2 linked regions of the Homo sapiens genome follow. Changing the gene in region 1 together with any one later gene gives a genetic interaction. Each region holds a gene or a part of one and is shown on either strand. Other genes may lie near its edges.

The links. A genetic interaction does not mean that the proteins touch.
Region 2: changes in SREBF2 (region 1) and ACACA together harm fitness more than expected from each alone (negative genetic interaction), as found in Homo sapiens cells (one large-scale study listed by BioGRID).

The regions. Positions count from the first base shown.
Region 1 is NC_000022.11:41,871,105-41,874,604, forward strand, and holds part of SREBF2 (sterol regulatory element-binding protein 2), read left to right. Parts: intron 1-2,693; coding exon 2,694-2,915; intron 2,916-3,500.
Region 2 is NC_000017.11:37,256,837-37,260,336, forward strand, and holds part of ACACA (acetyl-CoA carboxylase 1), read right to left. Parts: intron 2,695-3,500; coding exon 2,524-2,694; intron 1,538-2,523; coding exon 1,376-1,537; intron 1,031-1,375; coding exon 867-1,030; intron 1-866. UniProt on the Homo sapiens protein: Cytosolic enzyme that catalyzes the carboxylation of acetyl-CoA to malonyl-CoA, the first and rate-limiting step of de novo fatty acid biosynthesis.

The DNA.
Region 1 (3,500 bases):
GTTAAATCTCTATATGCTGAGTAGGTATGGGAGGGTCTATAGCACAAATCAGTCAAATTGTAAATGTCACCCCTCTTAGTTGTTTTTCGCTCGAAAAAGTATTAGCAATGTGTGTTCGATGTGGGAGTACTGGAGTCTACAAGGAGGTAGAAAAGAATAGCAGAAGGACCCTCTATTCTTGGCTAATAGCTCCACACAAGACCATTCACCTCTTAGATCCTGCTGATGACTTCTGAAGGACCCTAGGGCCACCAGGCAGGGAAGGGCTCCAAGGTGAAGAACATGGAAGGTACCCCATCCTTCAGTTGTAGGTTCTTAGCCACTTTCAGCATCCTATAGCATGAGAATCTGATAGAGTAAATGGTGATTAAAATTTAGAAGCACTAGCTTTATTCATAAAATCCAAGAACTGGAAGCAACTCAAATGTCCATCCACAGGAAAATAAGCACATTGTGATATATTCATACAATGAAATTATGCCTAGCAATTAAAAAACAGAACTGCTGACAGGCACGGTGGCTCACGCCTGTAATCTCAGCACTTTGGGAGGCCAAGAGGGGTGGATCACCTGAGGTCAGGAGTTTGAGACCAGCCTGGCCAACACGGTGAAACCCCATTTCTACTAAAAATACAAAAATTAGCTGGGTATGGTGGTGCATGGTGCATGCCTGTAATCCCAGCTACTCAGGAGGCTGAGGCAGGAGAATTGCTTGAACCTGAGAGGTGGAAGCTGCAGTGAGCCGAGATCGCACCACTGCACTCCAGCCTGGATGACAGAACGAGACTGACTCTCAAAAAAAAAAAAAAAAGCTACTGATGCATGAAACAACATGGGGCTGTCCCTCAGAAATAGTGTGTCAAGCCACCGGGCGCAGTGGCTCACACCTGTAATCCCAGCACTTTGGGAGGCCGAGGTGGGTAGATCATGAGGTCAGGAGATCGAGACCATCCTGGCTACCATGGTGAAACCCCGTCTCTGCTAAAAATACAAAAAATTAGCCGGGCATGGTGGCGGGCACCTGTAGTCCTAGCTACTCGGGAGGCCGAGGTAGGAGAATGTCGTGAACCTGGGAGGTGGAGCTTGCAGTGAGCCAAGATTGCGCCACTGCACTCCAGCCCGGGCGACAGAGCAAATCTCCGTCTCAAAAAAAAAAAAAAAGAAATAGTGTGTCAAGCCAAAGGAGTTCATGCTAATGAGTCCATTTATATGAAGTTTAAAAAGAGGCAAAATGAAGCTATGGTGCTGGAATTCAGAGCGGTGGTGACAAGGAGGGGAGGGGCATGCGGGGACTTTCTGAGCTGGTAGAAATGGGCTATATCTTGGTCTGGGTGGTTATATACATTGTGTACATATGTAAAATTCATCAAGCTATAAACTTAAGATTTGTGGTTTTTATTGTGCATGACGTACTTATTGGCAACTAATGAAATTGGGCACCTTTTTATTTATTTATTGGCTGATTAGATATTGAGGCCATTATTTAAGAAATTAAACTAAAATTGGTCCAGGCCCAGTGGCTCACGCCTGTATTCCCAGCATTTTGGGAGGCTGAGGTGGGCAGATCACCTGAGGTCAGTAGTTTGAGATCAGCCTGGCCAACATGATGAAATCCCATCTCTACTAAAAATACAAAAATGAGCCAGGTGTGGTGGTGGGTGCCTGTATTCCCAGCTACTCAGGAGGCTGAGGCAGGAGAATCACTTGAACCAGGGGGGTGCAGGTTGTAGTAAGCTGTGATCACGCCACTGCACTCCAGCTTTTGGGCAACAGAGTGAGACTTTGTCTCAAAAAAAAAAACAAAAACAAAAAAACAGGACGTGGTGGCTCACGCCTGTAATCCCAGCACTTTGGGAGGCCAAGGCGGGTGGATCACCTGAGGTCAGCAGTTTGAGACCAGCCTGACCAACATGGAGAAACCCCGTCTCTACTAAAAATACAAAATTAGCCAGGCATGGTGGCGCATGCCTGTAATCCAAGCTACTCGGGAGGCTGAGGCAGCAGAATCACTTGAAGCTGGGAGGCAGAGTTTGTGGTGAGCCGAGATCACACCATTGCATTCCAGCCTGGGCAACAAGAGCGAAACTCCGTCTCAAAAAAAATAAAATAAAATAAAATAAAGTTAGAAAAAATAAGAGGAGAAAACAGAGATGAAGAATAAAAAGGGGAGACCTCCATGGTTGGCCTATTTACTTAATCAAATGGCTCTTATTGAGAGTGTCACTTCTGCCCTTGAGCTTTTTGATGGCAAAATTGTATAAAGAAATGCAGTAATTTGCTTAATTGTCATTTGAGAGGAAAAAATGTGTCATACACTAGGAGAAAGTTTTCTCTGGTGCCAACTCGTGGTTCACCGTGTACAACTTTAGAAGTGGTTAACAGTTTGACAGCAAAGCAGAAATCATATGACTTGTTTCTGGCATACGTAGATCAAAACTTAAAACATATTTAGCCATGTTAATCCTCTTGTGGTGTAGTTTATCAGCAGTGATTCTTGAAGGGAGGTAGTAACCAAGGTTCCGTGGCTCCTGAGACTTCTTGGGGCCTGATTTGATTAACCCAGGAAGAGTCTCAGACCTCATGAAGTACTGCCAGGTCTGGCAGCACTTGGCCAAAGCGGGCAGGTCTGTGTTGAGGTTGCTTTATGCAGACTAACAAAGGGATCATTCTGCTGTGTACCTGTCCCTATTCTAGACCCTGGTGGGCAGCAGTGGGACCATTCTGACCACAATGCCTGTAATGATGGGGCAAGAGAAAGTGCCCATTAAGCAGGTACCTGGGGGAGTCAAGCAGCTTGAGCCCCCCAAAGAAGGAGAAAGGCGGACAACCCATAATATCATTGAGAAACGATATCGCTCCTCCATCAATGACAAAATCATCGAATTGAAAGACCTGGTCATGGGGACAGACGCCAAGGTGGGTGCCAAGCAAAATTGTGTTTTATGTTCCACCATCTCCCCTCTACCTGTTTTTGCCTCAGGAGCCTAGAGAAGTCCCAGGCTCAAGGTAAGTGAATACAAGACCGAGTTAGAGGTGCTTTTTTATTAAAGCATCTTGGTGTCATGTCAAGATTATAAAATATTAAAAAACATAAGGGACTGGTGAGGGTTGATAAGGCAGTGACCCGCTGAGACCTTTGACTCCTTTGGCTATGCTCTGCAGTGATGGGGACTCCACTGTCAGAGGCAGAGAAAGATGCCTGCCACTCAGTAGTTCCAGATACAGGACTGTGTGTACCTTGGAGTCAGCTGATGGCATAGTTTTAGCTGTGTTTAGGGGTTACCTTTTAAGGAAAAGAAAGAAAAAAGAGGTTGAGTCTTTGACCAGCAACACATAGAGGAAACTGATGTTCCAAATGTTTCTGGTGTTTCAGTGTATGTGTCTTCTAGAAAGTAGGAGATTTTATTTTTAAAACCTATCTATGTTTAAACCCTATTTTGAAAGAAAATTTCATTTTCCTTGCCTACAAATCTGAAAGCTGTACATCCTAAGTAAAAATCT
Region 2 (3,500 bases), on another chromosome or scaffold:
CTATTTATTAGTAATTAATACTAATAAACACTTATTAATTACCTACTCCATGTACAGTACAAAGGTAAAGGGAATGGTATTAAATGTTTGATACAAGGCAATAAACCATTAAAAAACAGAAAAGAACTAGTTCAAGTTTCAATTTTAGATAGATATTCCAAAAGATCTAAGCTGTTAAAATTACCTCCTTCAGCCCTATGTTTTAGGCAAGCAAAAGTGCTGTTAATTTAATATTCATTGTTTATGATTAACAGAATATTATCTAACATTTATGATATAGCAGTTATATTTGCATAAGCTGTTATATACAGCATGCTAAGGTCTCTTGTATTAGCAATGTAGACAGTTTCTTTATGTCCTTTTCATAATATGAGCAGTATAATTTTATTATTTTAAATAACTATAAGAGTACATCATGGTGACTATGGCTCATAACAATAGATTGTGTACTTGAAAATTGCTAATAGATTTTAAGTCTTCTCACAAGAAAAAAATAAAATAAAAGTCTATGATTTATTTGATACCTAGTTCTTGGCCAAGAATCTACCTCCCCTCAATAACAATACTGTTCCTGTGGAAAAATAAGATACCTTTAAAGCAATCAATTTTATACATTTATCAAAAATATTTGAAAGGAAAAATACTTCAAAAGGCTCAGAACAACAAACAGAAAAACATCTGCCAAGCACTGCATAATTTAATACAACATGAATGCAAGTGTAATTAAAGATATTCAAAATTTCTTCAAAAAGGTTGTTCATATTATTACTTTGACAGCAGATGATTCCTATTCCCATGCTCACACCTTCACTTAAGATTAGCACAAATTTATTTTGTAAAATGCAATCAAATGCTATTATACTCACGAAATTGCCTCTTCTCTGTTTTCTCCCCAAGAAAAGCAGTGACCAAACTGAGAATCAGCAAATTCATGAAGTCCCCCTGCAGCAGCAACACTGAAATATCCCCAAACATTCTTATTGCTGCGGAAATTTAGCTCCTGAACTGTTCCTGAGCTGGGCTTAAAACCCTGTTAGAGAATAAAGAATGAGAGACCATATTATGTTTCGAAGGAAGAGAAGATTTATATATTCATTGTTTAAGTTCTCTGTTAATCACACACAGAAGCAGAGAAGACACACAAAAATGATAAAGGCCAAGACCCAGTGCCACAGACCCACTGAAGACTCTACAGTGACTTAAGTGGGATTAAGTAACCAATGAAGCAACAACCATTTACTTATCTGCTCTGAGAAACCTCTATGTTTCCCACTCCAGAGGAAGTCCCAAGATATTTCAGAAGTATACTTTCAGATACTATCTTAACATTAAAGTTCATTAAAAGGAGGTATAAACCTTTTAAGTGATGGGTTACCTCATCTGGATTTTCACTAGTGATCCGAGCAGCAATAACATGGCCCCTTGGACAAGGAACGTGTGCAGAATCTTCAAAATCAATGGGAGAATCACCCCAGGGAGATACCCCATACATCATACGGATATCCTTGATTCTATATAGAGGAATCCCCATGGCAATCTGAAAGGTAATAAAACACACATCTTTAATTTTTCAGTTACTTCCCTTAAAGTGTAGAGGCTATCAGATAACCTAAAATATTTTTATTTTTGGAGCCACTCCCTAAAACATTCTATTTTTATAACCTGTATTCTACAATCATCAACTCTAAGTTGCTTGAAATACAATATATCACTACAGATAAGTAGTTAGAATATTCTCCACTTCTAAAGAAGTCCCCACATTCCTAATGCAACAGACACCAGTTCCCCTGTTGTCATTTCTCCATCACGTAATAAGAATGAAAATATCCAACAGAGGAGTAAATGTTAATAGCCATCCAAAAACAGACAGCTAGAAAGTCTTAATTGTGTCATAATTATCTCTTCCATCCCTGCAAACCACTGGAGGAAGTAAGTAAATCTTTAGTCTTTAATAGGAACCCAGAAGGTGTTCTCGATGTGGGCAAATGTTAGATAAAAATAATATCAAGCCTTATCATTAACTATTACTGCTTTCCATAATATTTGTTTCCTGGGCTGAGAGAAGACAATAATATTGACAGCAAGCACTTTACAAATTATAAAAATATATGTGTGCTACCACACTCTTGTAAGGAAAAACTTCAACCACTAATCTCTGATGCAGAATTATTTCAATAAAGAACACTAGTAAAAAAACAAAAATGAGTAGGGAATAATTATAATACAAAGTTGTGAAGTTTACTATAGCTAAATAATTGAATAAAGCATACATTATTAACATTTATTTCTAAAACATGACACATTATATCAGATGTGTCTGGCTAGAAAAAATAACATTCCTATGTCTGTACTACATCAGGAAAACCAAACCACACATGCATAACACATACAGGGTGAAAGAGAAATGACCATTAGGTGTGACTCAGATAGGAGGTGCTTTTCTCTTATCACACACTGGTTAAACCCATTTTTCAGGCCTCTCTGACTTTTCTAGGCTCTGCAACCCAGATCAGGGAGACTCACCTGGAGCTGTGCTGCAGGGAGATTGACATCAGCCACCATCTCTGTACAAGGGTGCTCTACCTGCAGCCGAGGATTCAATTCCAGAAAGTAGAAGCTGCCATCCTGGCTGTACAGGTATTCCACAGTCCCAGCACTCACATAACCCACCATTTTGGCAAGTTTCACCGCACACTCAAAGAAGAGAGATAAGCAAACATAAGTATCTCACCTTATCCAACTGCTAGACCACTACAGCCTCTCACTGACTCAACTGTTCAGTGTGTATAAGAGCCATCAAAAGCTTTTAGCCACATGAGAGCACATTTCTGATTATTATACAATATCCCTGGACAAGGATGAAAAACTCAATGAAAAATCGGGAGAAAAGAGCATTTTTCACTTTGCATCAAAAGCAACCTCACCCCACCAGACATAAATGCATGCAGACAAAAAAACATGGGGACAGACTCTTGTCCAGTTTCCAGTATTTCCAATATGCTCCTCTTCTTCCTAGAAACATAGCTAACTAGTTAGAGACTAGATTTTTTTTTTTTTTTTTGAGACAGAGTCTCACTCTGTCTCCTGGGCTGGAGTCCAGTGGCACAATCTCGTGGCTCACTGCAAACTCTGCCTCCCGGGTTCAAGTGATTCTCCTGCCTCAGCCCCCCAAGTAGCTGAGATTACAGGCATGCGCCACCATGCCTGGCTAATTTTTGTATTTTTGGTAGAGATGGGGTTTCCCCATGTTGGCCAGCCTGGTCTCAAACTCCTGACCTCAAGTGATCTACTCGCCTTGGCCTACCAAAGTGCTGGGATTACAGGCGTGAGCCACCATGCCTGGCCTGGTTAGTGGCTAAGTTTTGACAAACAGGACACCAGCATTGGTAAGTGATATGCATAACTCCCAAGTCATATATATATATATATATATATATATATATATATATATATATATATATTTTTTTTTTTTTTTTTTTTGGAGATGGAGTCTCGCTTTG